Linked DNA regions of Homo sapiens. The protein of the gene in region 3 purifies or fractionates together with the protein of the main gene of each other region. This does not show direct contact. Each region holds a gene or a part of one and is shown on either strand. Other genes may lie near its edges.

Region 1 (8,220 bases), on a different chromosome or scaffold from region 3:
TTGGCCTCCATCTACAGGTGACAGGACCAGGGCCGTAGCCCTGCCCTTGACCCTCACCCAGACTTTGTTTTCTGTGTTCACCTGGGCTCATGGGTTACCTTCCAACAGAAAACCGGGCTCCGTCTCCCAGCCCATAAGCCTTCATGTTGGTTCTGCTAAGGAAAAGGTCTCCTCACTGGCTTGCTGAGATGCGCATGCAGGAAGAATTCCCTGGTGTTTCCTCTGAGTGTGCCCTGGGCAGGTGATGTTAGGGACACAGCAATGACCTAGTTCTTGTCTGCACAGGCTTCTGATATTCAGGGGGAGGCCAAATGTAGAATCTAGAGACCGAGCTACTCAGGCCCATGGGCTCATGACAATGTAGACACTGATGTTTCTGTCTCCTGATTGGACCCTGGATACAATTTATCTATCCATCCTTGTCCCAATGCCACAGTGTCTTTGGTTTTCTTTTTTTTTTTTCCTTTTATTTGTTTATTTATTTTTGAGATGGAGTCTCCCTCTGTTGCCCAGGCTGAAGTGCAATGGCGCAATCTCAGCTTACTGCAACCTCCATCTCCCAAATTCAAGCGATTCTCCTGCCTCAGCCTCCCAAGTAGCTGGGATTGCAGGCATCCGCAACCATGCCCGGCTAATTCTTATATTTTTAGTAGAGAAGGGGTTGGCCAGGCTGGTTTTGAACCCCTGACCTCAAGTGATTCTGCCCTCCTTGGCCTCCCAAGTGCTGAGATTACAGGCACAAGCCACTGCACCCAGCCCACAGTGTCTTTTTATACCTTTCAATAAGTCACAATATGTGGTAGTGTTTCCCAACTTTGTTCTTCAAGATTGTCTTGGTTATTCTTGGCCCATTATATACAAATTTTGGAATCGGTTTGTAGTTTCCACCCCAAAACTCTTATTTTTTTTTAATTGGGACTTTATTGAATCTAAAGATAAATTTGGGGTAAATCAATATATATTCAATATTTAGTCTTCCAATCCGTGAATGTGGCAAATACTTCCATTGTTTAGTCTTTCTTTAATTTCTCCCAATAATGTGAAGTTATTAATGTAGAGGACTCACATATCTTTTATTATATTTATTCCTAGGTATTTAATTTTTTCATACTATCCTATAGTAATCTTTTAAGTTTCATCTTTTAATTCTTTGTTGCTGGTATATAAATCATATTTAATATATGACCTTATATCTAATTTTTTGCTTGTATCTTACCTCCAGTAAAATGCTGAATGGAAAAGTTGATGGCAGAAATACTTGTGTTATTCTTAGTATTTTACTATGAAGTATAATTTAGCCCTAGGTGTTTTTGTTTGTTTGTTTGTTTTTTGTTTTTTTTTTGAGACAGGGTCTCACTCTGTTGCCCAGGCTGGAGTGCAATGGCGCAATCTCAGTTCACTGCAACCTTCGCCTCCTGGGTTCAAATGATTCTCCTGCCTCAGCCTCCCAAGTAGCTGGGACTACAGGCACCCACCATCACACCCGGCTAATTTTTGTATTTTTAGTAGAGATAGGGTTTCGCCATGTTACCCTAACTGGTCTCGAACTCCTGACTTCAGGTGATCCACCCGCCTCGGCCTTCCAAAGTGCTGGGATTACAGGTGTGAGCCACTGTACCCGGCCTGTCCTAGGTTTTTAATAGAAACACTTTATCTTCTTAGAAAATTTCCTTTTGTTCCTAGTTTGCCAAAAGTTTTGAGCCATAAATGAATGTTGAGTTTTATCAGATGCATTCTCTGTATCTACTGAGATAATAATATGGTTTTTCTCCTTTATTCTGTTAATGTGGTGAATTACATTAATTGATGTGCAAATATAACCCAAATTTGCCGTCCTGAAATAACCCAATTTGGTCTTTATATTTATCCTTGTGTAAAGAAAATCACTGGAATCAATTTGCAATATTTTCTTTGGGATAGTGTGTCTGTGTTGACAAAAGAGATTGACCTGAGGTTTTTCTTTGTTGTAATGTCCTTATAAGGTTTTGAGATAAGGTGATGCAAGTCTCATAGAAATCTTCCATCTTTTTCTATGTTGGGAAAAGTCTGGAAGATCATTTAATTTATTTATTTATTTATTTATTTATTTGAGGCAGTGTCTCTGTCACCCAGGCTGGAGTGCAGTGGCGCAATCTGCACTCACTGCAACCTCTGCCTCCTGGGTTCAAGCTATTCTTCTGCCTCGGCCACCTGAGTAGCTGGGATTACAGATGCCCGACACCATGCCTGGCTAATTTTTTGTATTTTTAGTAGAGATGGGGCTTCACCGTGTTGGCCAGGCTGGCCTCGAATTCCTGACCTCAAGTGATTCTCCCATCTTGGCCACCCAAAGTGCTGGCAAGTGCTGGCATTACAGGTGTGAGCCACCGCCTGAGAAGGTGTTTAGAAAAGGGGATGGAAGGAAAGGGAGCAACTGAGAAAAATATTTGTTGAAGATGTATTGAGTCATGCAGATGGCTGAGGGAAGAGACGGGGACCAGCATGTGCAATGGTTCTGGGGCAAGAGCCCCTCTGCCTGCCTGACAGATTCAGGGAACAGCGGGAGGCCAGCGTGGTTGGAGGGTAGGGAGTAGGGGGAAAGGTGCAGGAGGTCAGAACAGTAACCAGAGATAAATTTTTTTAAATTTTTATTATTTTTTTTGAGATGGAGTTTCACGCTTGTCACCCAGGCTGGAGTGCAGCGGTGCGATCTCGGCTCACTGCAACCTCCGTCTCCCAGGTTCAAGTGATTCTCCTGCCTCAGCCTCCTGAGTAGCTGGGATTACAGATGCCCGCCACCACACCCAGCTATTTAGTAGAGACGGGGTTTCACCACGTTGGCCAGGCTGGTCTTGAACTCCTGACCTCAGGTGATCCGCCCGCCTCAGCCTCCCAAAAGTGCTGGGATTACAGGCATGAGCCACCGAGCCCAGCCCGAGAGGATTTGTTTACTGCTTTATCCCCAGTGCTAAGAAGTGTGCCCAGAACATAGTAAGAGTTCAGGAAATATGTGTTGAGTGTTCACATGTGACACCTTCATGCTCTTATTTCATCCCTGGGAATGTAGTCTCACCCCTGGGAAAGGAAGCGGGGCAGGTAGTAGAGAAAACTCTGAATAGACAAATTAAGTTTGCTCCTTTCCCAGCAAAATGGAGGGCTTGGAATAGAAATTAAATATGGTCAGCGGGGCACAGTGGCTCACGCCTGTAATCCCAACACTTTGGGAGGCCAAGGTGGGAGGATGGCTTGAAGCCAGGAGTTCGAGACCAGCTTGGGCAACATAACAAGACCCCGTCTCTACAGAAAAAATTTTAAACTAGCTGGGCATGGTTAGCATGCACCTGAAGTCCCAGCTACTCAACAGGCTGAGGTGAGAGGATTACTTGATTCCAGGAGTTTGAGGCTGTAGTGAGCTGTGATTGCAGCACTGCCTTCCAGCCTGGGTAAAAGAGCGAGTCCTTGTCTGAAAAAAAAAAAAAAAAGAAAAACAGTGTTGTCAGCTTGTCACAAAACAAAAGGGGATGGTGACCTCACACACACATGTGGTAGCTGCAATTCATCCCACTGCCCAGGGCTGAGGCCAGAGTTCATGGGTGACCTCACAATGTTCGGGGTGGCACCAGCCCACTGCCACAGCCCCAGTCCACCATGCCACCCATGCTGTGGCTGCTGCTCCACTTTGCTGCCCCGGCACTGGGGTTCTACTTTTCCATCAGCTGCCCCAGTGGTAAGCAGTGCCAACAGGCCCTACTCTCAGGCAATGATATTCTCCTGTATTGCAACTCCTCGGGGGCGCACTGGTACTATTTATTCACACAAGGCAAGAAGGGCAGGCTCACCAGCCTCACCAATATTTCCAATATGGAAATAATGCCCGAGGGCAGCCTTCTCATTAAAGATCCATTGCCCTCCCAGACGGGCCTCTACCACTGCTGGAACAAGAATGGCCGCCAAGTGGTGCAGTATGAAATTGACTTTCAGGATGTCACCACCCTGCATATAACACACAAGGACCTGGGTCAGAGGCCCCTGCAGAACGAGACCCTGCATTTGGGCAGCAAACAGCTCATTTTTACCTGGTGGGAGCCCTGGCAGGACTGCAACCGCTGTGAGGAGCCGGGCGAGTGTAAACGCCTGGGGTACCGCTACATTGAGGAGCCTCTGGAGGAAGCCATGCCCTGCTGGCTCTATCTGGGAGAGGTGCTGGTGTGGTCTAGCCGCTTGCGGCCTGAGCTGCAGGTGGAAGCCTGCCACGTCCAGTGCACCAATAACACACAGTTAAGGGTGGATTACGTCATTTTTGACAACTTCAGGCTCGATGAGAAGACAGAATTTGTGTGGCTCGACTGTCCCTTAGGATCCATGTACAGGTGATGGAATCCCTGCCTCTGGCCCCTACCCAGATTCTTCCGGTCAGGGGATCCTTCCTGGTAATATGTGCAGAGGGATGAGTGGGCGTTCTTTGCAGTTCAGCCACGTAGTGGTCATCAGGACAGTGCCAGGCCCTGCTCTTAAACAGTCCGAGGGGGACACAGCCCAGGGTGGTGCGAGCCGGGATGGGAGAAGCCCAGGCAGACAGATGGGGCTGTGATGGGGGAAGCCCAGGAAGCTTAGGGGCTCCAACAGGCCCCTGCTTCATCTGGAAAGGTCAGTGAGACCTTGGAGGAGAGGCTGGTGCCCCCGGGGCTTCCCATCAAGGCCTGCCTCCCAGAACTCACACTCATCTTCTTACTTCCTGCCAGGAGCCTCTGGAAAATAGCCCCTTCCCCTCCTCTCCCCCAGTCCACCTGCCCCTTAATAAGAAATGCAGGCTGGGCGCGGTGGCTCATGCCTGTAATCCCAGCACTTTGGGAGGCCGAGGTGGGTGGATCACCTGAGGTCAGGAGTTCGAGACCAGCCTGGCCAACATGGTGAAACCCCGTCTCTACTAGAAATACAAAAATTAGCCAGGTATGGTGGCACGTGCCTGTAATCCCAGCTACTCAGGAGGCTGACGCAGGAGAATCACTTGAACCCGGGAGGCGGAGGTTGCAGTGAGCCGAGATCACACCACTGCACTCCAGCCTGGGCAACATCACGAGACAACTCTGACTCAAAAAACAAAAAAACAAAAAAACCCCAGAAATCCATTGTCTCACCCTTCTGGAGGCCGTAAGTCTGAAATCAAGGTGTCAGTAGAACCACGCTCCCTCTCAGTCCCTCTGAGTGAGCTGGGCAGAATCCTCCTTTTTTCTAGCTTCTGGATGCAGTCAGAGATCCCGGTCTTCTCTGGCTTGTGGCTGCTTCTCTCCAATGCCCGCCTCCATCATCACTTGGCATTCTTCCTGGGTGTCTGTGTCCCTGTCTCTCTTTTCCTTTTCTTAAAAGGACACCGGTCAGATGGGATTGAGGGCCCACCTTATTCCAATATGCTCTCATCTCAACTGATTATATCTGCAATGATCCAATTTCCAAATAATGTTACATTCTGAGGTTCTGGGAAGGACATGCATTTTGCGGGGGCCACTGTCTAACTCAGTGCAGAGGTCTTGCCAGCCCCTGGCCACACAGGGTCATTGTGATGTGTTAAGGGGACTAAAGACTGTAGAGTGCCTGCCATAGCATCCAATAAGAAGTTCCACAATGTACCTAGCTGGGAATGCAAGCTTTTATGATATTGTCTGTGGAATATCCTCTCTGTTCTTCCACCACGCTGGGTGTGTCGGTGCCTGATTCATTTCTCCACTAAACACGTGTTCACTGCATATTTATATGCCAAGCTCCATTCTAGGGACCTGGGAAACAGTGAAGAACACAACCAACGGAGATTCTTGCCCTTGTGGCGCATAAATATATAGTTTTATTATTATTATTGTTATTATTATTAGAGACAGGGTCTTGCTCTTTCACCCTGGCTGGAGTACAGTGGCACAATCACAGCTCACTGCAGCCTCAATTCCCCGGGCTCAGGTGATTCTCCCATCTCAGCCTCCACAGTAGCTGGGACTACAGACATGCACTACCACACCCGGCTAAGTTTTTAAGTTTTGTAGAGATGAGGTCTCACTTTGTTGCCCAGGCTGAGCCCAAACTCCTGGGCTCAAGTGATCCTCCCACATCGGCCTCCCAAAGTGCTGGGATTACAAACCTGAGCCACTGTGCCCGACCTATAGTATTTTGGATGGTGACGGAGCAGGAAGGGATGCTGGGAATAGGGGAGGTTAAAAGTGTCAAGTGGTGGGGTCAGGGAAGGCTCCTCTGAGAAGCTGCCATTTCAGCCCAGACTGAAAGGAGGCGAGGAAGCCCTGGGGACAGAGGGAACAGCCAGGGCCAAGACTGCACCCAGCATGTCAGAGGAACATCTAGGAGAGCAGCGTGGCTAGGCAGAGTGAGTAAAGGGGAGAGTGAAGGAGATGAGACCAGACAGGCAAAGGCAGGTGGACAAATCATTTAAGGAGTGCCCTTGCTAACTCCTCCAAATAACCTTATGAGGTACAATCATTACTCTCCATTTTTTTTGGTTTGTTGTTTTCTTTTTTGGGACAGGGTCTTGCTCTGTCACCCAGGCTGGAGTGCAGTGCTGTGACTGGCTCACTGCAGCCTCAACCTCCTGGGCTCAAGTAATCCTCCCACCTCAGCCTCCTGAGCAGCCAGGACCACAGGCGCATGTCAGCATGTCCAGCTAATTTTTTAAATTTTTGCAGACATGGGTTCTTGCTTTGTTGTCCAGGCTGGTTCTGAACTCCTGGGCTCAAGCCATCCTCCTTGCCTTTGCCTCTGAAAGTGTTGGGATTACAGGTGTGAGCCACCAAGCCTGGTCTAGACTCTTAGTTTTACATAAAGAAATGGAAGTTCAAAGAGCTGGAGGCATTTGCCCAGGTCACCCAGCCAGTAAGGGGTGGGGCCAGTAAGGGGTGGAGCCAGGAAGAGGGGAGCCAGTAAGGGGTGGGGCCAGTAACGGGTGGAGCCCTGGGAGCCCCCAGCTGTGCCTCCTCCACCCCACTGTTGACGGCTGCACAGTGCTCCGTGGGGGGTGGCGAGGAGGGGGACTGGGCGGTGCTTTATTTTCTGTTCCTCAGGGAGACGTCGGTCCCTCCTTTCTCCCTGGCCCTGCACCTGACCTTGTCCTCCTCGCAGGCCCGTCAACTGGCGTGCCAACGACACCCCCCTGACGTGGGAGAGCCAGCTCTCCGGCCAGGACTTCACCACCTTTCTGGACCCCTCCACCGGCGGCAGGCAGCTGCAGGTTTTCCAGCCGGCCGTCTACAAGTGCTTCGTGCAGCAGGAGCTCGTGGCCCAGTTCAAACCCGCCGCCAGTCTGGAGACGCTGGAGGCTCAGTGGAGAGAGAACGATGCCCAGTGGCGGGAGGCAAGGAAGGCCCTGCGGGGCAGGGCGGACTCCGTGCTCAAGGGGCTGAAGCTGGTGCTGCTCGTGGTCACCGTCCTGGCCCTGCTGGGGGCGCTGCTCAAGTGCATCCACCCTTCCCCGGGCAGGAGAAGCACACAGGTGCTGGTGGTGAAATAAAGCGAGCCCCCGGTGCACAAGCGGACCCGGCCTCCGGTTCTCTCTTAGCCACAGCCGCCCCTTCTGTCACTTCCGCCCCGGTGCCCCGTAGCCCAGGGTGACCGAGCTCTTCCCTGGGTCAGGTGCTGCTCTGTTAACTCATTAGTAATTTCCATAGAACAGATGAGGAAACTGAGGCTGGTGATTCTAGTTCAAACCAGGTTGCCTGTCCCAAGCCCTGTGTTCTTCAGAAGGAGGGAGAGATGGAACCAGGCCATTCTTGGGGTGTCTCCCTAAAGGTGGTAACTCATAGCCTCCTCACTCATCCCATTCCCCCAACTACAAGATGGGGGATATGAGCAGGACACCTCTAGGCTCCCCAGATCTGCCCTGGGCCCTGCTGTCTTTTCCTGCCCATCCCTTGCCCACCCTCCCCACTGTGCCCAGGCCTTCAGGCCCAGCCACCACTCCCCAAGTCAGAGGCACTGCCAGACACGCGCCACTTTTCCAGGCTCTTGTGGTGGAGTGAGGCCCCTCAGGCCCTTGGAAGGGGAGACAGGCCCTTTTGCTGGTACAAGGTGCCAGGCCTGGCTCAGCTGACCTGCAGGAATCACCAGGCCTGACTGTTCCCAGAAATCACACACTGTTCAGCAGAGTGCAAGAGTGAAAAATAATTCATGCCATTAAAATTCATTGCCCTAATAGTGCAGTGAAGCCATGACTGGACAGAGATGAAACTCTCCCAGAACAGAACCTCT
Region 2 (7,899 bases), on a different chromosome or scaffold from region 3:
AGTTATAAAGGCAATTTTTTTTAGAGATGTCATCTGATTTAGAAGGCCAACATTGTAATTTTAATACTGGGATATAAAGAAAAATCACTGGGGCTGAGACATTAGAATTACCCCACTAGTTATTGAGGAGGTCAGAATTTACTTTGTCATTATAAGCATTCTAGGTTACTGAATGAGAGACTGGTGTACTTCAGTCAAAAAGCTTAACAATTTCCCTTTTATGTGTTTGATATGTGAATACAAAGTGACTAACATTTACTCCCTGGCCTCAAGAAGGTCCTTACAACTCTTGACTTTCTGAAAACCACTTTGAGACAACATCTGGTCAGCTCCTCAGTGTGACAGAGCTCAATGCCAAGTTGCAACACAGAAAGAACAGGAAGGCCTGCTGCCATTCATTCACTACAGTGAAGGTACATGCTTTTTAGGAAGGGCTTACATTTAAAAGTAAATTACTGAGAGGTATTTTTCTAAGTAAAATTCACCCTTAAACATCTCTTATGGAATTATCTGGTGCCTCTTGGGCCAGTTTTTCCACCATGATTTGAACAGATCATTGTTTCATTGGCTGACTACCCAGGTTACACTTAGAAACTTTGAAAAACATGTATCTTTAAACAATGTATGCACATTTGGAAACATGGTTTTGTTTTGTGCTTTTTAAAAGACAGAAAAGGGATCACGCTGTACTTATACATCTCATTTATATCCCCCACACATCAAGGTGTTTAGGAGGTTTTCAATGTATCTGTAGCAAGTTATACATTCTGAAAATGGCCACAGCAATATTTCTGGTCCCATATGCTCTTTGAGAACCTTGCCTCTCTCCACCAAGAGTAGAGTCTATTTCCCCTCCTGTCAAAACTGGATATAATTTTGTGTCTGCCTAGATACAATGCAGCAGAACTGACACTACATAACTTGTTTTTTGTTTCTTTTTGATGAGAGGGAGTCTCCCTGTGTTGCCCAGGCTGGAGTGCAGTGGCGCAATCTCGGCTTACTGCAACCTCCGCCTCCCGGGTTCAAGTGATTCTCCTCAGCCTCCTGAGTAGCTGGGACTACAGGCATGAGCTACCACGCCCGGCTAATTTTTGTATTTTTCGGCAGAGATGAGGTTTCACTGTGTTGGCCAGGCTGGTCTCGAACTCCTGGCCTCAAGAGATCCTCCCGCCTGGGCCTCCCAAAATGCCAGGATTACAGGCGTGAGGCACCGCACCTGGCTAGAGACTACATGACTTCTAAGGCTAGGTTATAATGGGTAATATGCTTCTGATTGACTTTCTCGCACGATACTTGCCGTGGAACCCAGCCACCAGGCTGTGACAAAGCCCAAACCAATCAATGCTAAAAGACCACCGGGAGAGGTCTACATGGACTAGAACTGAGGCCTCCAGCCTTTATCCTGCATCAACCATCAGCGGTGAAAGTGAAGTTTTCAAATAATTCTACTCCTCAGCCTTAGAGTCTTCCAACTGAAGCTCTACGCATAATGGAGTAGAGAAAAGCCATCCCAGTTGTGCTCTGTCTGGATTTCAGAGGCACAGAATCTGCGAGCATAATAAATACTTTATACATAGAGTTTAGATTACGGCAAAAAGTTGCAAACGTGTTCCGTCATAGAATTATATATTGAAAACGTCCATCTGCGGCACACCAGACCAGCTCTATAAATCAGGTTTTTAACAAAACCGAATTTGTTCAGTGAGCGGGTGAGTTACACTACCTGTCTCAGCTCAGACCTGCCGGGAGTCAATTGTGGACTAGAGCAGAAGGCGCCCAGCCACAAGCTCAAGTTCTATCCCCTTTGCACTCGATAGGCAGATCCCCTGGGAGGATCAGGCCACCTGTTTACCAGTGCTTCCTAACCTATTTGTGTCACAAGTTTAGGAGTGTGCTTCTTAGCCCTGGTCACTCTCTTTCACCACCTCTCTCTAACCCTTCCCCAGGTGTGCTAGCAATTGCCCAACACCTGTCAGTCACTTTTGCCTCCAATTTTACTGGGTGCGAGGAGCAGAGTAAGGAGGGAGAGGAAGAGGGCTGACTCCCTTGCCTCAAAGTGGCAAGGGCCAGCTGAACTTAATTCACACTGCAAACCACCACGTTTCGACAGCCATCCCCATATTTTCACAGCTCAAATCTTCCTTTCTTTTTCGGTCGGCTTCTCTGATTTGCTCCATTTTTAATCGCTCCTCCCCCATCCTCCTTGCCCCTGGTCAGGGCAAACATTAAACGCTGTGCAGCTTTAAAAGGGCATTTTTAGGTGACTTGTAAACGGCTTGTTCCACAGGCCCCGAATTGGCGAGATTCGCTACAGCTCGGAGTGCGCGGTAGACTTTAAGCAGGGAGCGCCTGCCCGGTCCATCCCTCCCCGGCCCCGCGTGGCAAGCACCGCAGGTTGAGGCGCCCCCAAACCGAGGAAGAGGGTTTGGGAGCCTGTGACTCCAAAGCCCTCTGCAACTTCCCGGCCCCACAGCCCCACCCACTAGCACGCGGCCTTCCCCGCAGCCCGCAGGAGACACCTTTGTCCCCGCCCCTCCACAGGTCACCTCCCTCCACGCCCCTCTCTCTTGGCCCGGGCAGCCGGCAGGCAGGGAAGTGTCGTAAAGCCAGGCCCAGGAAACTTTACCCGGCCTAACAGCTGAGGCGCTTTACGGCGACGGCGGCTGAGTGAGAACCTTGGCGGCTGTGGAGGCTGCCGCGGCTGCGAAGGAGGCGGCGGCGGTGGCGGAGGAAGAGGAGTGGCGGCAGCGGCGGCGGGGACCCGTGCGGGGTGAGCCGTGAGGAGGGGCCGCGAGTGACAGGGCTGGCGGGTGGGCCCGGGCGGACGGGGACGGTGGCCGGCTGAGCAGCTGGGCGGCGCTGAAGAGCGGGGGGGTGGCGGGGAATTGGGGGGCAGCTCCGTGAGGGACGGTTTCTGCCTTTGTTCCCCCCACCTCGGCCGCCCCCCATCCGTCGCCCCCTGTTCTCCGCGCTCCTCGGCCGGGTTTCATGGCCTCCCCTCTCGGTCTGTGTCGCTTCTAGGATGGCGGAGGTACCGCCTGGGCCTAGCAGCCTCCTCCCACCACCAGCACCTCCGGCCCCGGCGGCGGTCGAGCCCCGCTGTCCCTTCCCGGCGGGGGCCGCCCTCGCCTGCTGCAGCGAGGACGAGGAGGACGACGAAGAGCACGAAGGCGGCGGCAGCAGGAGCCCGGCGGGCGGAGAGTCGGCGACGGTGGCGGCCAAGGGGCATCCGTGCCTCCGCTGCCCTCAGCCGCCGCAGGAGCAGCAGCAGCTCAACGGATTGATTAGCCCCGAACTGCGGCACCTCCGGGCGGCCGCCTCCCTCAAGAGCAAGGTCCTGAGCGTAGCAGAGGTGGCCGCGACCACAGCCACCCCTGACGGAGGCCCCAGAGCGACTGCAACAAAAGGAGCCGGGGTACACTCGGGCGAGAGGCCCCCTCACTCCCTCTCTAGTAATGCAAGAACTGCGGTCCCCAGCCCGGTGGAGGCAGCGGCGGCGAGCGATCCCGCGGCGGCCCGCAATGGACTGGCCGAGGGCACCGAGCAGGAGGAGGAGGAGGAAGACGAGCAGGTGCGGCTGCTGTCTTCGTCCCTGACCGCCGACTGCAGCTTAAGAAGCCCTTCGGGCAGGGAGGTTGAGCCTGGGGAGGATCGGACGATACGATATGTCCGATATGAATCCGAGCTACAAATGCCCGATATCATGAGACTGATCACCAAAGATCTGTCCGAACCCTACTCCATTTATACCTATAGATATTTTATCCACAACTGGCCACAGCTGTGCTTCTTGGTAAGTGGATAGAATAAAAAGAGGGTGAACCCAGCAGTGATCGAGACTGTGCGGGGCAGGGAGTGAGGGCCCAGAATGTGGCAGTGGATATCTCCTGCTGCGTATCATAGTACGTTATATGATGTCAAGTGCTGTACACATTCCTAGTTATTTAATGAAATTGTTTTGAAGGTAAGACTTCATGATTCGGGTTAACGTGATACTAGTGTAACTGCAGCAAGCCTGTATGGTGGCGTGTTTCACTGGGGTGGGGGTCTTGTGTCTTGTTTACATTAGATTATAATCGTGTTTAACCGTCTTTAATTACCCGCCCGCATCCTCAAACACTTTACAGTCATTTAATTTGAACATGGTTCTGTTCAGATACAGGCCTTATTAGTCTCTCGATTACAACCATAATCAGGGAAGAGTGTATGCATAAACATGTTGTGGTGAACATGGATGTCAGCAAACTTGGTGTGGTCATATTGGAGAATTAAATCTTACAAGCATTTTCGGTAATTATGGAGATGTTTCTCTTTACTTCAACTGGACAATTAACAGTTGTAGCCAGCCTGCTTTCTGGTACTCCATTCCAGAAAGCGCTACTAACACTTCTGGTGGCTGAAAGACTCCTGAAACTTGAACAAAATACCCTTTTGTGGAATGTAGAAAACTTGTGTGAAATTGTTACCGATCTGATTTTTTTTTTTTTAATTTAAGAAACTGGTTGTAGATGTGGCCAAACACTAGTAACACTGGCTTGTGTAGAGTATAATTGACAATAATATTACACGTAAGTGAAAGACTTTTGGACGGTTTTTAAAAATTAACATAGTATTGGCAGTACCAGTAATTTCTTCACAATAATATTGACCCATTTCAGTCTGTATGAACCCTTTAACTTAAACGTTGACTGCAGGTGTATGCTTTGTATCATGTGCTCACAAGCATATTGTTTCTGTTGAATTTTACTACAGAAAGATGACATCCTTTTAAGGAATATTTTTTAATATGTGAAGGGAAAAGCCACCATTACTTAATGTTTTAGCATTGGCTTAGTTTCACTTGGTAATTCCCTGCAAGATATTTTGACAATACTTATCTTTTTGATTCTCTAGCTTGGTGATAATTTGAAAATGTAACCTGGGTATTGTAGATAATGGTAGTTCTATTTTCTGTCTTAACTTGCTTAAACTTCAATTCAGTACATTTGTTAAAACTGTGGGTACTACTTTATATTCTTGAAAACTGCTCTTTCAGTATTCTAAGCATTGTATCAGAATAGTTCTAAGACATGTCTGTGTCAATGAATATGAGAAAATGATTTATAGCACTATTATAAATGTCATATCAAATGCCACTGTAATTGCTAAAAATTGTAGATTTAGTTGTAAGTTAACCCACAGAAGTAGATGATTGAGTCACATTTCAAGTTGAAATAGATGTTTTTCTGTCAATTCCAGGAAATAGTTGTGTATATGATATTTAGTCAACTTTGAGTCCTGATAGTTACCTAAGCCTCTCTCAACTTGTTTGCTATTTTAGACTCTGGTCAACAATATTAGTAAACTTTAGATTTGATTTTATGTAGAACCCTCCCAATTCACCAGCTAATGTGTATGTTAGCCTTTAGTAGCTCAAGTTTGTTTAATATTCTGAGTATCTAGAATTGCGATATGCACAAGTGGTTGACCTATAAGATTTACTGGTGCAAGTATGAATCAGGAGGTATTAAACAATAATAAAACAGTAAAAAAACAACCAGGCCATTTAAAACTGAAGCCTTTATCTTGGCATACTTTTAAATTTAAGTTTCCCATAGGAACTATTTTTTTAAAAATACAGATGCGTAAATGTCTGTTTATTTTAAATCATATCCTTTTAGAACTGAAAGCCATCCTAGAGATAATCTAGCCCAACTTAGGTTTTGTTCTGTTTTGTTTTTTGATTGAAAAAAAGTTAAGAACCAAAGTGACTTAAAATGTTTCAATCTCCAGATATTTACTGACAGAGGGGTAGGTTTTGTTTTGTTTTTTGATTGAAAAGAAGTTAAGAACCAAAGTGACTTAAAATGTTTCAATCTCCAGATATTTACCGTCGGAAGGGTAAAGCTAGAACCCAGTTCTCCTGGCCTCTCATTATGGTAACAAACAAGAACCTGAAAAATGACATACCCTTGATCCATTCAGTGAAGATTATTGTGTCACCAAGTTATCTTCACCAAGGGACAGTTGCCCTTACATCAATCTCAAGAGATTAAAAACCTCCAAAATGTTCCGTTTTCCGTGGATAACCTGTAATGGGTCAATGGAGTATATGGGGTTGAACCTTACAAAATTGCCAATACTTGATTAATAAAAATGATAGCTTATTATGATTCTTCCTAATTGTAAAAGATGTAAAAAAAAAAAAAAAAAAGGACAAATGTGAGACACTTTCAGTTACTCTGTACTTAACCATTTTATCTTTACCTGTTTTCATAGTAACATTTTCAGTTGTTGGTATCTTTTTGAAGTTCTTAAACTTACTCTCAGCAAATGTAACATAGTACTTCCATTTATTTGTTCTAAATTTAACTTTTTGGCTTCCTCCAGTTTTCTATTTGTAGTGTTCTAGAATTTGGGAATCTCTCACTTTATTTTTTTCATAGTTTTATAGACTGACAACCCTTTGGCCTTGTAGTGTTAAGTCTTAATCTTGCCGGGGATTTTTCAGTTCCCATCCTTGAAAAAATACATTTAATAGCGTGAATTCCAAATGTATATGCAGAGCTTTTATTTGGAAAAATTGACAAGCAATTTAGTGATTCCTGTAAATGTACCACATATTCATGAGTAGTTTATCAGGAAAAAAAAATGCAGCATTGGTCTTCACTACTAATGTCATCGTAATGGTGTATGATATATTGGGCTTTTTAGATGATGTATACAGCTTGATTTTTGCTCCTATAGATTCTAAATTAGGAAGAAATCAGGTCTTAAGAATGAACTAATTTAATATTTTGTTTGCTTATTCCATGCTCAAAGGACAAAGATTTGTTTGAAATTCCTGTTCAGATTGAAAGTACTGTCCAGTTGTATTGTGTTTAATGGTTTTAATTTTTCCTCATTTTTGGATAGTTTTATATAAGGTGTAGCTATTCTGAGGTTTGTATCATCAATCTAATACAGGTTTTCATTTCACCTGAGCCTGGCTTATGAGGTCAGGCCAAAATTTTTTCTGGCCCTTTTAAATATACCATTTGGTCTGTGATAATTTTATGTATGTGTATGTATTTATACGTGTCTGTATATACGCACATATATTTGAAGTGAGTTTCAAATCAGAAAAAGCTTTCAGAGTTGGTCGAGGCGATTTTTGTGCATACTTCAGGTCTTTGTTTAAAAAATTTTTTTAAAAGATTGATGTATTGTGAGGGAAAAAATTAGAAATAACAATTTCAGAGGTTTATTGACCCAAAATAGTTTTGGAATGTGTGATAAACCAGAAATGAATTAGCGTGGGTTGTTGAATTTCATATTCCTTCAAAAGGATTTTTCCGACCTAGTTTAGGTTTGCATGAAATGGATTAGAATTATCTTGCTGAAAAGATTTCTCCACAGTTAAAAAAAGGCCTTTTAATCAATTTACAGAATGACAGACTAAAAAAGTCACAAATTTAAAATATGTATTAATTATAAATTGGACATTACTTATTAGTTTTTTGACTCATTTCTGCTTTTGTTGAAATAGTTTCTTCTGGAAAGTTAATTTATGGAAAACAGACTTCTTACTGACACATTATTTAAACAGTTGGAGATACTGCCCTATTTATATTTACCAGAAATACTGTGTTACTAGAACTTTTTATCAGCATTGGAATTTTTGAAAAACATTTTCAATGGTAACACTAGAAATCTTAATGAAAATGGGGGATGATTAGAATTTAACATGTAGCTTTTAATACTCTGGAAAGCTGTACGTTTTTATTAAAATAGAAATTTCTGTAAAATTAAAGCTTTTAACATAAAGCTTTGATTTTGAACTATAAATATTCTGAGAGCTTTATGACAGTTATCCACACTATCAGGAGTATCCTAAAAATGAGACTATGCTACACTTACATATATTAACAAAAACCTCTT
Region 3 (3,500 bases):
GGCAGGGTGGGGGTGGTGGTGTGGTAAACGCTAATAAATAATTTAACAATGACAAGTTATTAAATAAAATGTGTCTGGGGATGGCGGGTGGGTAGTGAGAATCTGTCTGTACAAGGAAAACAGGAATGGCCGGTGGCCCATCCCCACACCTGGCTGGGCTGGGCTCCCATGGGACCCCCAGGTGGGGTCGGGGGAACCAGCAAAGAGGCTCATTGGCAATGGTGCCTTCCAAGGGCCAAATGTTGGAGGGGTCTTTCCTGCTCCCCCAGTCCCCAGGCCACATGTGCCTGTGAGTATGGGTCCGCAAGCCTCCGTGTGCGTCCAGGTGTGAGTGTGTGTGTGCGAGCGCGTGCGTGTGAGCGTGGAGCCCTTTCCCCCCAGGGCAGACTTAGCCCCAGAGCTGCAGGCTCTCCCTCACCCTAGGTGGTGCCCAGAGCTCAAGGATGGAGCCAGGCAGGCATCAGGCAATCCTCCTTCCTGAGGTTCCCTGCGTGCAACATGAAAAGGACATTCAGATGGGGGCAGAGTGGGGAATCAGCCTCTTGCTAGGAGGCTGCAGGGCTTCCCAAAGGAGAAGAGGCTTGTCCCTGCCAGGCCCTGCTCATCTGATGCAGCGCCAGGGCCTTCCCACCTTTACCCACCCTCAGGAAGCCTCCTAAGATGCCCAGCCACGTGCACCAACCCCCTTTCTGAGCTCTTTCCAGGCTGTGCTGGCACCTTGGTCTGACTCTTGTGAGCAGTGTCTCTGTGTGGCCTCCCTGTGCGTTTCCCAGGATAGCAGAGTACCTGGGAGGCTTCACGGAGTAGGCAGATGAGGCTCTGGCTGGGGCCATGCCCAGCTTTTTGTCCCTCCTCTGCCCTGTGTTACCTGGGGCAATTATTTCCTCTTTCTGAGCCTTGACTTCCCCAGCAGGGAAGTGGAACTTGGTCTTTTGCCAAGACTCCCCCTGCCCACCTCTCATTCTCTTTTGCTCTGGAGACCACACAGTTATCTCCCTCTTCCCACTCCAGCCCCCTTAGTGATGAAGGTTCCATGTCACGGCACGGGCAAGGGGTGGTCCTGGCTACTCCCCGCCCAGCTCCCAGCCAAGGCTGCAGCTCCTCCCATAAAGTGGGAGAAGGTTGCCCAGCCCCACAGGCTTCTGCTGGGTGGCCCTGAACACATCGCCTCCCTTCTCTGAGCCTCAGGCTCCTCATCTGAGAAACGGGTCCCTGCCATGTCTGGACTCTCTGGCTGGGCCGGAGAGTCTGGCTTTCCTTCTAGGAGACACCCCTCAAGGCAGGCCCTGCATCTTGTTCATCTGCGAGCCACACCCAGTCCGGGGCTGGGCAGAGTGGGCACTGGTGTCTGGGAGCCTGTGGGCAGCAAGGCACAGCATAGAGCAAGGGGCCCCTAGCCACGGCTGACAGGGCGCCTCCAGCATAAGGGACTCTCTGAGGTCCCTTCTGGCTTTAACAGTCTGTGGGTCACAAGCATGCTGTCCCTAGACCAGCTCCTGGCATGGGGTCCCGGCTGGATTCGGGGGTTTGTGAGGCCCCAGAATGGGAATATGTGACCCCAACAGCTGGCAAGTTTACTAAGAACAAGTTGTGACCCCCTGACCTGGAGGTCATTCACAAACCACAGGGGACAGTGGGGCACAACGTCCCTGTTCTCAGCTCAGCTCTGTCACTAACCCGGACCTTGGACAGGCCTCTTTCCCTCTCTTGCCTCAGGGTTTCCAACTATAAAATAAGGGGCAGATGAGATGACCGCTTCTGACGTCCCTTCCAACTTATTGGGTCTGAGAGAGAAGGGCCAGGTCTCCTGGGGGATAGGGCATCTGCCCCTGAATCTGCCCAGGATGTCCCTGGCACGATTCAGATGGTGCATGTGCAAAAGGAGAAAGAGGGGTGTCTCTCCAGAAGCCAGTGCAGCTGCTGCTCAAGAGACCCATGGTGGCACGGACCCTGGTGGGCTGAGGCGGCAGAAGGACCAGAACATCAACTGAGGTCCTTGGAGAGGCTCTGTTTGTAAGAAGAGCTGCAGAAGGGCTAGCTGGCTGCTGGGGCCCAATGGGTGACACGAGGCCACATGTCAGGCAAGGAGGTTGGCCCAGGACATTCTGGGGGGACTGAATTTCCCAGCAAACGGGAGCAAAACCACAGAACAGGTTGAACTTAGAGGATTCCAGAGATCCAGGCAGAGGGCCCCAAAGGTGGAAAAGGGACATTCATTATCCTTACTTGCTCAAAGGTTGGACCAGGCAGACTTTAGGGTGGTGGCCTAGGGCTTGACCTCAGAGTTAAAGGTAGGGTTGTGAGCACCTGAACAAGGGGACACAGTGATCACCAGGGGACAGGGTGGGCTCACCAGTCAGGCCCCAGCAGCCCAGCCTCCTTGCTCTGACAGGGATAGAGTTGAGCAGACTGGGGCTGGGGATGGATCTAGTGCACCTGACTTCCAGCAGGGCGCCTGACACAATCTTCTGCAATTGCCCTGGGAGAAGGGGGCAGGAAATGCAATTGGAATGTGTCCCCCAAAGAGGATGCATTAATGGGCCAATGTCAAACAGGGAGAGGCCAGCCCGGTCCACACACCTCAGGTGAGACCCAGGGCCAACTCCTCACTGGGCAGATGTGCTGGGAGAGAGGAGAGCAGTGGTCACTGAATCAGGGTGCAGAGAAATTCCACAGGCTGGAATGAATCGAGTAAGAAGGAATGGAAAAGGAAAGAGGTCACGGTCCCTCATTCAGTCTAAACAGTAAGTGCAGACTGGGTGCGGTGGCTCACGCCTGTAATCCCAGCACTTTGGGAGGCCGAGGCAGGCGGATCACCTGAGGTCGGGGGTTGGAGACCAGCCTGACCAACATGGAGAAACCCCGTTGCTACTAAAAATACAAAATTAGCTGGGTGTGGTGGCGCATGCCTGTAATCTCAGCTACTAGGGAGGCTGAGGCATCAGAATCACTTGAACCTGGGAGGCGGAGGTTGTGGTGAGCCGAGATCGCGCCATTGCACTCCAGCCTGGGCAACAAGAGCGAAACTCCGTCTCAAACAAAACAAAACAAAACAAAACAAAACAAAACAAAACAAAACAAAACAAAACAGTAGGTGCCCCCATCCTGCATATACACAGAAAACAGATGTGGCTTAGCTGTCACTTGCGTGTGGGGCCCAGGGATTTAGCTACAGCAGGGCAGGGTGAATCTCTAAGGTCATGTGGCCAAATCATTGTCTTTTGGGCCAAATTAACAGAGGAAGGGTGCCACAGCAGGAGAGGTGATGTGCCTGCTCACTTCTGGCCGGCTGACATCAGTGGGAAGGTGAAGTGATACCTGCCCCACACCTTTAGAGGGACAGCCGGAGGCCTGCTGGGGGACAGTGTTAAGAGGGAGAGCTGGGGAAGCCTGGCTCTGGGATGCAGGACAGCACAGCTGCTGTGGGCTCGCTGACCTAGTGAGCTCCTTGTCACTGGAGGTATGTGAGGGGAGGCAGAGGTGGCTGGGGAGAGGACCAC
Region 4 (7,472 bases), on a different chromosome or scaffold from region 3:
TTTTAGAAACAAACAGCTGGACCAATTTATTTAAACAGATAGAGGGATGGGGAACTGACCTCAGTTTGACTTATAGTGGGAGGAGCAAGAATGTCATTTTATTACTTTGCCCAGAAGGAAAATGTTTTTGTATCTGAATTCACCCTGAAGCCATCTAAACATGGCTCTGCTGTGTGTAGCATAATTCCAAAGAGAGAGGATGTATAAAATAGTCTGGGATAATGATAAAATACACTAAAGAGAATCAAATGTGGAGATTGTTTAAGGTCGAAAAGGTGATGTTGTTTTAAAAATAAAATATTTTGCTATTTACTTTGTTGTTTTCACATAGATGTCCATCATGACCCCAAATAATTAGTTGTTCATATAAGTGTAGTAATTGTAATTCAGTAACGTTCTGAGAGATTACTACATCCTATATGTACTAATGATATTTCATTATATTGAATTTTTTAAATTAAATGTTTCACAAGTAAGAAGTTGCAGGTAGACCTACTAATGTGGTCAAACAGCTCAGAAAAGGTGATTAGTTTTTCTCAGGTTTTCAGTGTTTTTGTTTATGTTTTATTTTTTAATTAAAGGTTTCCCCCTTTGATATCTACACATTCTAGGGGTAGCTGACATCTGTGTTCTTAATAACAACAAACAGTTCTTGCCACCAAAAAGAAGCAAATAACATCTAGTACCTGTGGGCAGTTGGCTAAGAGGCTGTGGTATTTTTTGTGTGTATTTGCTTTCTACCTGGGGATCAGAGCAGGCCTGGAATAAATGTCGTTGGTGTTGTCCACTGCAAGGCTTCAGGAGGACATAGACAAAGATCAGCCTACTGAGCAGAGAGTGGTCCAGGTATTGAATGGACTCAATATCCTAGAAGGACTCACATTCTAGCAGGCACTTTTTAAGAATCACTAATGTTTAACCTAAGGATTAGAGGGGAGAAGGCTATAAAGCATAATGGCTATGTTTAACTATTTGAAGGGCTATCCTGTGGAAGTAAAATTAGAATTGCTTACAGTACCCCAAGGAGTTGTGCTGATAAAACTATTAGGTTGGGTGCAAAAGTAATTGTTTTTTTTTTTTTTAATTATACTTTAAGTTCTAGGGTACATGTGCACAACGTGCAGGTTTGTTACATATGTATACATGTGCCATGTTGGTGTGCTGCCCCCATTAACTCGTCATTTACATTAGGTATATCTCCTAATGCTATCCCTTCCCCCTCCCCCTGTAATTGTTGTTTTTGCCACTGAAAGTAATGGCAAGACCGCAATTACTTTTGCACCAACATAAATATTTTTGATCTAGTAAGGCAGAACCTTCTAACAGCCTTGTTTATAGATGGGGTGGCCTCTTAAGTAAGGTGGTGAGTGCTGTATTAGTTCAGCAGAGGTTACCTATGTACTTTTGGGGGACAGATATCATATAGGGGATTCATGTCAGTGACCAAACGAAGTGACCATTACAGCCCTTTTGAAACCTGAGGTGTAATTTTTAAAAATGAACTCACGACTTTAATAGTCATAGACTCAAACCTGAGTTGATTATTATGAATTAGTTTATGGGAGTCTCAATATGTGAATATGATGGAGACAAGTTTTGGAATACAGATAAATCAAGTCACTGTATTCACTCTCTCTCTCTCTCTTTGAATAGCCTTATCTTTGCCTATACACACAAACAGTGCAGCCATCAAAATTTTCAATTTACAAAATGTTCACAGTCATGCTTCTTCCTTGACTAAACACTGGGGTTGCTGCCAGTGGTAATTGGCTTGAAACCAGCTAATTTTTATATATCTATTTAGTCTGGATATTCTAGATGAGTGGCACTATAGTTGCGGTGCTCTAGTCACTGTGCCAGAGCACCAGGGAGGAGGGTGCTTGCTACCACTGACAGCTGTGTGTCATTTAGCAAATTATTAACATCTCTTTGGTAACATGTGACCTCAAAGAAGTCACCTAATTTCTCTGAGCCCAGGCTTCTCATCTGTTAAAAATGTCTCTTCCTATTTTTAGGTAAGTAGTATAAGTCACATCCATAAAAGATTATGTTTTTAAAAAGTCTGGAAAAAGAAAGTTAATAGACAGAATTCCTTCCCTCTAAGAGTCTGCAGATAATGAACAGTACCATAGATAAAGAGATGTTTTTGCTCTCTTACCTACATTAGTTACTATGAAAATTACTTTTGGTATATGCAGAATATTAATATTAAATAATTTTCTAATTGGTCATGCAGTGAAGGCAGCTAATGAAAAAACAGATTTTTTTTCATTTTAATTGGTTATTTCACATGGTGTTTGTGCTACACCTGTGCTTATAATGAGAATGGAGAATTAATCTAACCTTCTGCTCACATGATTCCAGTTTTCATGGTTTATACAAGATAATGATAACCTGATTTGCAACACAATTTGTTGTAGACCTGTGTTTTAAATATTTTTATTAGCAGTTCAGGGACTTCATATACAAGAACTGATATAATATGTATTGCCAACAAGAATTAGCACAAACAGTATACCTTTTAGTTAGATTCTAGTTTCATTATTTGTTTCAATTACTTCTCAGATAATGAAAGAACACAAGGATACAGGATATTGAGAATCTTAAAATGTTATGAAGTATGCATTTTTGTTTTGAAAACCTGTCCCTGTCTGTTTAATGGTTTGGTTTTTAGGAACTATTTTCCTTCCTGAAGTGGGCAGATTTACAAACTAGAATTCATACTGGACTATGGATCCTTTAATCATTAATAGAGCCTTATTAAACTTTTCATTGTATTTTTTATGTCCTGCTCAGATTTGATCTGAGTTGGGAACTAAAAGGAATTTACTATTTCAGAATCTAATATGTCCTCTTCATTTTCTGGATTTGATACGTAATTTTTAATATTATGCAGAACAAACGGATCTTAAGAGAATCTCATGCGTATGACTCTGGAGAGCGTATATTAATACTTTTTTACATGTCAGTGACTTGTCACTTTTGGAGAGGCTACAAAAATAATTGTACAAAACTATCTTATTAAGGCACTTAAAGTAACTTAAGTGCCTTAATAAGATGTTTATAAATTTTCAGTACTAGCTGGAGAAAGCAAAACTATAAGTTCAATTACTGTATATCTGTGACCTTGCCTTGACCTCAGACTTTACATAAAGAGCAAAAAAAAAAAAAACAACAACAACAAAAAAAGCCACCCCAAGAAATCTCTACAAGGAATGCATTTCTCTGAAGTCCTAAGCAGTGTGAGTTAGTGGTGATAAACTCCAGACATTCTCTCATTTGATGGTGTGCTGCCATCCCAGTTCATTATCTTAATAGTGGGCATTAAAATAGAATTAGGTTTGCAAGAGGTAGGGGTGGTTTTGATAAAAATTGTACAAAAGAAGTCAGAGAACATAAGATTGAAATGTCACTAATTAGGAGAGGTAACAGATGCCCTTATGAGCATCTAACTCTTTACACCAATTTTCTCTCTTTGCAAATGAAAGGAGTGGTGGCTAGTATTGTTTCCTGAAAACTCTGCTAATTCCCCCATGAAAAGATGAAATGGAAGTGTCCAACTGTGGTAAAACAGGCAAACATAAATCAACTCAGAAACCCCAAGCCTGTGTACTCAAAGGTCACTGGGGGTTACAGGTTTTCCAGCACGTGAGGCTGCACATAGAGCAATGGAGAGAACTGAAGGAGTCCCATTTTGCCAAGATCTAGTTTTACTCCAACTGCGATTCATCTTTTCCTCTTCCTCAACCCCCCCTTTTATTTTTAAGGAATAACGATTTGTTTCACTTTCTTGGTTACAGGTTTATTAATGCCCGGAGAAGAATAGTGCAGCCCATGATAGACCAGTCCAACCGAGCAGGCAAGTCCCCCATAGTGACTGTATTCAAGTCACGCAAGCGAAAACCATCCTCAAGCCATTCACCGGGAGGTCCGCTACCTGGTAAATAAACTGGGAGTGAGTATAGGAACGCCTGGCAATTAAAATTAAACCAGTTTCGTTTCATAACAACACTAATCAATTTAACATCATTATAAAACGTTTGGAGAAGGTGGAAAAAAAAAGCCAACAGAGAAAAGTAACTCTTAAATAATATGCTCAGTTACAATATTCTTTGTACACATTCAATATATTAATGTTATTTTTTTTCTGAGTTTGCCTTCCCAGCTCTTTCTGCTACTATGACCACTCCCTGGTGCATGGCTTGGTGTGGAATTGCTGTAAACTTTATTACCTGTCAAAAGGGCAAAGGGGTCAGGATTGCTTGTGGGACTCAGTAAAGTTCAAAGACATTCAATGAGGTAGAGCTTTTGTGTGCTTTAATAACCCAAGGCAGCTTACTTCTGAAGCAGCTTTTCATGTACAGTTAAAACACGGGATTCAGGTAGTGGTATAAATACATGGTTCTTATTTCTCAGACCTTCTCTTGTTAATATCCATCTTCTGGTGTTCGACTTTTTTTTTTTTTAATAACAGTCTTTTTGTTTTGTTTTTAAATTATGAGCTTAAAATGGCGATACTTCTATGGGATCCTGGCTTGTGGATCTAAAAATCCAAGAAACATCTCTCTAGGATTTGTTTTTGCATTATAATATGCCAGTAAGATAACAAGAGTATTTGCTAGGGGTGATGTGAGTCTTTACTTTCTTTATGAAATACTCTCTCATCTCTTAGGGAGCACTATGGAAAACTATGTTAGCATCGCATTGAGGCAACACACATTTACTCCTGTAACTTTTTTTCTTCCAACACCCATTATGTGGTCACCAGACAAAACCCAAGCAGAAAGTTTCCACACCTTAACTGTTCCCTCTTTGAGCTAGATGTTTTAAAAACTCAGTCACAGAGGTGTGTAGATCTAGTCTGAGAGAAATTTCACTTTGAATGTTTAAAAAATTATACTAGCCTGCTATGTTCTGTCTCTTTCTCTGGTATGTTCTCCTCTTAGTCTCTCTTGGGCTATTTCTTTTGCTCTCAGAGACTGTTATTAAAAAACCACATTCTGTACTTTTGTAGTAAGTCAAGGAACACCTTATAATCCTGATGGACAGCCCATGGGAGGTTTCGTAATGGACGGTCAGCAACATATGGGAATTAGAGCACCAGGTAAGACTTTGTTTTTGTGGTAGTTCCTCATTTTTGACTCCAAGAGTGTCATCCCCTCATCAACACAGGTAAATCCGCCTCATCCTTTTCTGTTATCTCAAGCTGGCTGCCTTGCCTTGTCTGCTATCTGTGCATCTAAGATATTGCAGAGGGGAAGCCAGGATCTTTATGCACTGAAGATCTCACTATTTCTCAACCCTCTAGATCCTGTTTTTTTTTTAAGGGTCTTTTGGCACTATCTGTTGACTTTGCTCATTTTCTGGCCTCTTCTTGGATTTTTATCTCCCTTCTAGGACCTATGAGTGGAATGGGCATGAATATGGGCATGGAGGGGCAGTGGCACTACATGTAACCTTCATCTAGTTAACCAATCGCAAAGCAAGGGGGAAGTAAGTACAAATGGGGTCTTTGTTTTCACTTTGTCCTAGGAATATTTTTCCTCTTGCATTTTCTTATGTTCTCCTTGCCCATAGCTTCATGCTTGTTCATTCCTTTCCATTAAACTCCTGGTTTCTTGCTTCCATCATTTTCTTTTTGGTTGTGATCAAGCTTTTAAGCTTATAAATACTGTGTATGATGTACATTTATCCTGTGTGTTGCTATTGTACAGTACTGACCACATGACAAAACAAGAAGCAGTCAGGAGGTGGGGGAGTGGGTTGTCATAGCAACAGACTGATTTGCAAAATGTAAGCAGTCTGCAGCAGTGCAAGGAGAGGGAAGAGCATGTCCCCAAAGTGTCATAAATCTGTCTAACCGCAGTTGATGCATGAGTTACATTTCTACACTAACCTGCAAGACACCGAAAAGCTAAACAGAGACTTCTTTTAGGTAAAATAAACACAAGCTTTACTTAGGGTAAGTAAAGGCATATTTTGAGCTCCAGTCAACTAAACTTTGATTTTTTTTCTTAGTTTATTCCTTTGTCTGTCCATCATAATGGGATTACGTGTGGCAATGGGAAAAGGGAGAATACAAAATAGAGGTGTGCACAGCAGGCTGCGGGGCTTAGCCCAGGCTAATTGACTATATCCAAATTAAGTATGCCATCACTTGCAGTGTGACAAATGGATTTGACTTATTCAGTATACAAAAATAGAGATCATTAATGCAATCATCAGTGGCAGGCCTAGTGAAGTGGGCCTAGGAAAACTGTCCCAGATTCTCACTCTTGCATTTTCTCTCCTATAAAGACACTCCAGCAATTCGAGTTCAAACAAGTAAAACTGTTTTGAACACCAAGGCTCTTGTTCACTTCCTAAATTACCCCTAATAGCACTGTTCTTGCTTTGTTTTTGAAATTAAAAGCAGTTATTTCAGAGTCTTGCTTGTGTCTCTGATTATATTTATGCACTATTTAAAATCACTGCTGAGGCCAGGGGTAATTCGTACTGGTCATCTTCTCTGGGTGTGAGTCAAATATAAGTTTAACAATTAGCTCTGAAAACATTCCATTGAGCTGGGGAATGCAACAGTCTTATTACCTCATCATGGAATTCTCTAGCTTAGTTAATTTAAATATTGTTTCTTAGTTTCTGGGTCAATTAAATTTAAATGATGTATTTTATGCTTCGTGACCAATTAAATTACTAGGTTATTACAAAAAAAATTATCATCTTTTTTGATTAAAGAGCTGTGGGTACAGTATATTTTATAAGCAATTTTCATTAGTTCAAAAATGTTCCTTTAGGCTAGATTAAGCAGCCATTCATTGTTAGAGCCTGGAGACCTTATTCGAAGGTGTTCATCGTATTCACAGTGCACTATTACTTAGAACTAAAGCCAATTGAACCTACTTAGCAATAGCGTTATGCCTTTCACCCTTGATGATTATGGAGCTTATAGCTCTCAGAAACAATACACCTGTCAGTTTCCATCAACTATAGCAATCCATGCAGAAGACAAGAGGCCCCCTCAAAGCAGGAGGGGTATTGTTTTAGGTCCAATTTTTCTTATTGTTCTCAAAATCATTATAAGGTGGACAGTGTTTTGTGAAGATTTTCTTTTCCCCAGCTCTAAGAAACCATGTGGAAAGAATTCATTGATAACTGTTTTGATTTTTTTCTTTTTTTAAGTACAGGTTTTGCTAAGTAATCACCCTTAGTGAGCCTGTGTAGTTCAGCTGCCTGTGAGATGTTTGGTGACCAGCTCAGTGTATTCTTGTATTCTTGATAGAGAATATTTCAGGAGACAAAAGTGCTTCTTCAGACCAGACCTCAAATAACAATTTTATTCTTTTTAATAAATAAGACCTCAGTAGGCGGACCTGATAACAGTGACAATGAAAGGAAAATAGTGGCAAAATGTGAGTTTCCAGCATGATGTTTCTCATTTTATTTTCTTCTGTATGAATCAAAAGAATGCTTTA

Evidence for each region.
Region 1: the proteins of LMX1B (region 3) and FAM187B purify together in Homo sapiens (co-immunoprecipitation; one large-scale study listed by IntAct). This does not show direct contact.
Region 2: the proteins of LMX1B (region 3) and NAA30 purify together in Homo sapiens (co-immunoprecipitation; one large-scale study listed by IntAct). This does not show direct contact.
Region 4: the proteins of LMX1B (region 3) and MEIS1 purify together in Homo sapiens (affinity purification with mass spectrometry; 3 studies listed by BioGRID and IntAct, with this or other methods). This does not show direct contact.

The regions. Positions count from the first base shown.
Region 1 is NC_000019.10:35,224,088-35,232,307, reverse strand, and holds FAM187B (protein FAM187B precursor), read left to right. Parts: upstream 1-3,568; 5' UTR 3,569-3,627; coding exon 3,628-4,349; intron 4,350-7,095; coding exon 7,096-7,483; 3' UTR 7,484-7,508; downstream 7,509-8,220.
Region 2 is NC_000014.9:57,387,936-57,395,834, forward strand, and holds the start of NAA30 (N-alpha-acetyltransferase 30), read left to right. Parts: upstream 1-2,650; 5' UTR 2,651-2,770; intron 2,771-3,021; 5' UTR 3,022-3,022; coding exon 3,023-3,793; intron 3,794-7,899. UniProt on the Homo sapiens protein: Catalytic subunit of the N-terminal acetyltransferase C (NatC) complex. Catalyzes acetylation of the N-terminal methionine residues of peptides beginning with Met-Leu-Ala and Met-Leu-Gly.
Region 3 is NC_000009.12:126,697,428-126,700,927, reverse strand, and holds part of LMX1B (LIM homeobox transcription factor 1-beta), read right to left. Parts: 3' UTR 1-3,500. UniProt on the Homo sapiens protein: Transcription factor involved in the regulation of podocyte-expressed genes. Essential for the specification of dorsal limb fate at both the zeugopodal and autopodal levels.
Region 4 is NC_000002.12:66,563,653-66,571,124, forward strand, and holds part of MEIS1 (homeobox protein Meis1), read left to right. Parts: intron 1-3,800; coding exon 3,801-3,859; intron 3,860-5,014; coding exon 5,015-5,104; intron 5,105-5,397; coding exon 5,398-5,456; 3' UTR 5,457-5,493; intron 5,494-7,472. UniProt on the Homo sapiens protein: Acts as a transcriptional regulator of PAX6. Acts as a transcriptional activator of PF4 in complex with PBX1 or PBX2. Required for hematopoiesis, megakaryocyte lineage development and vascular patterning.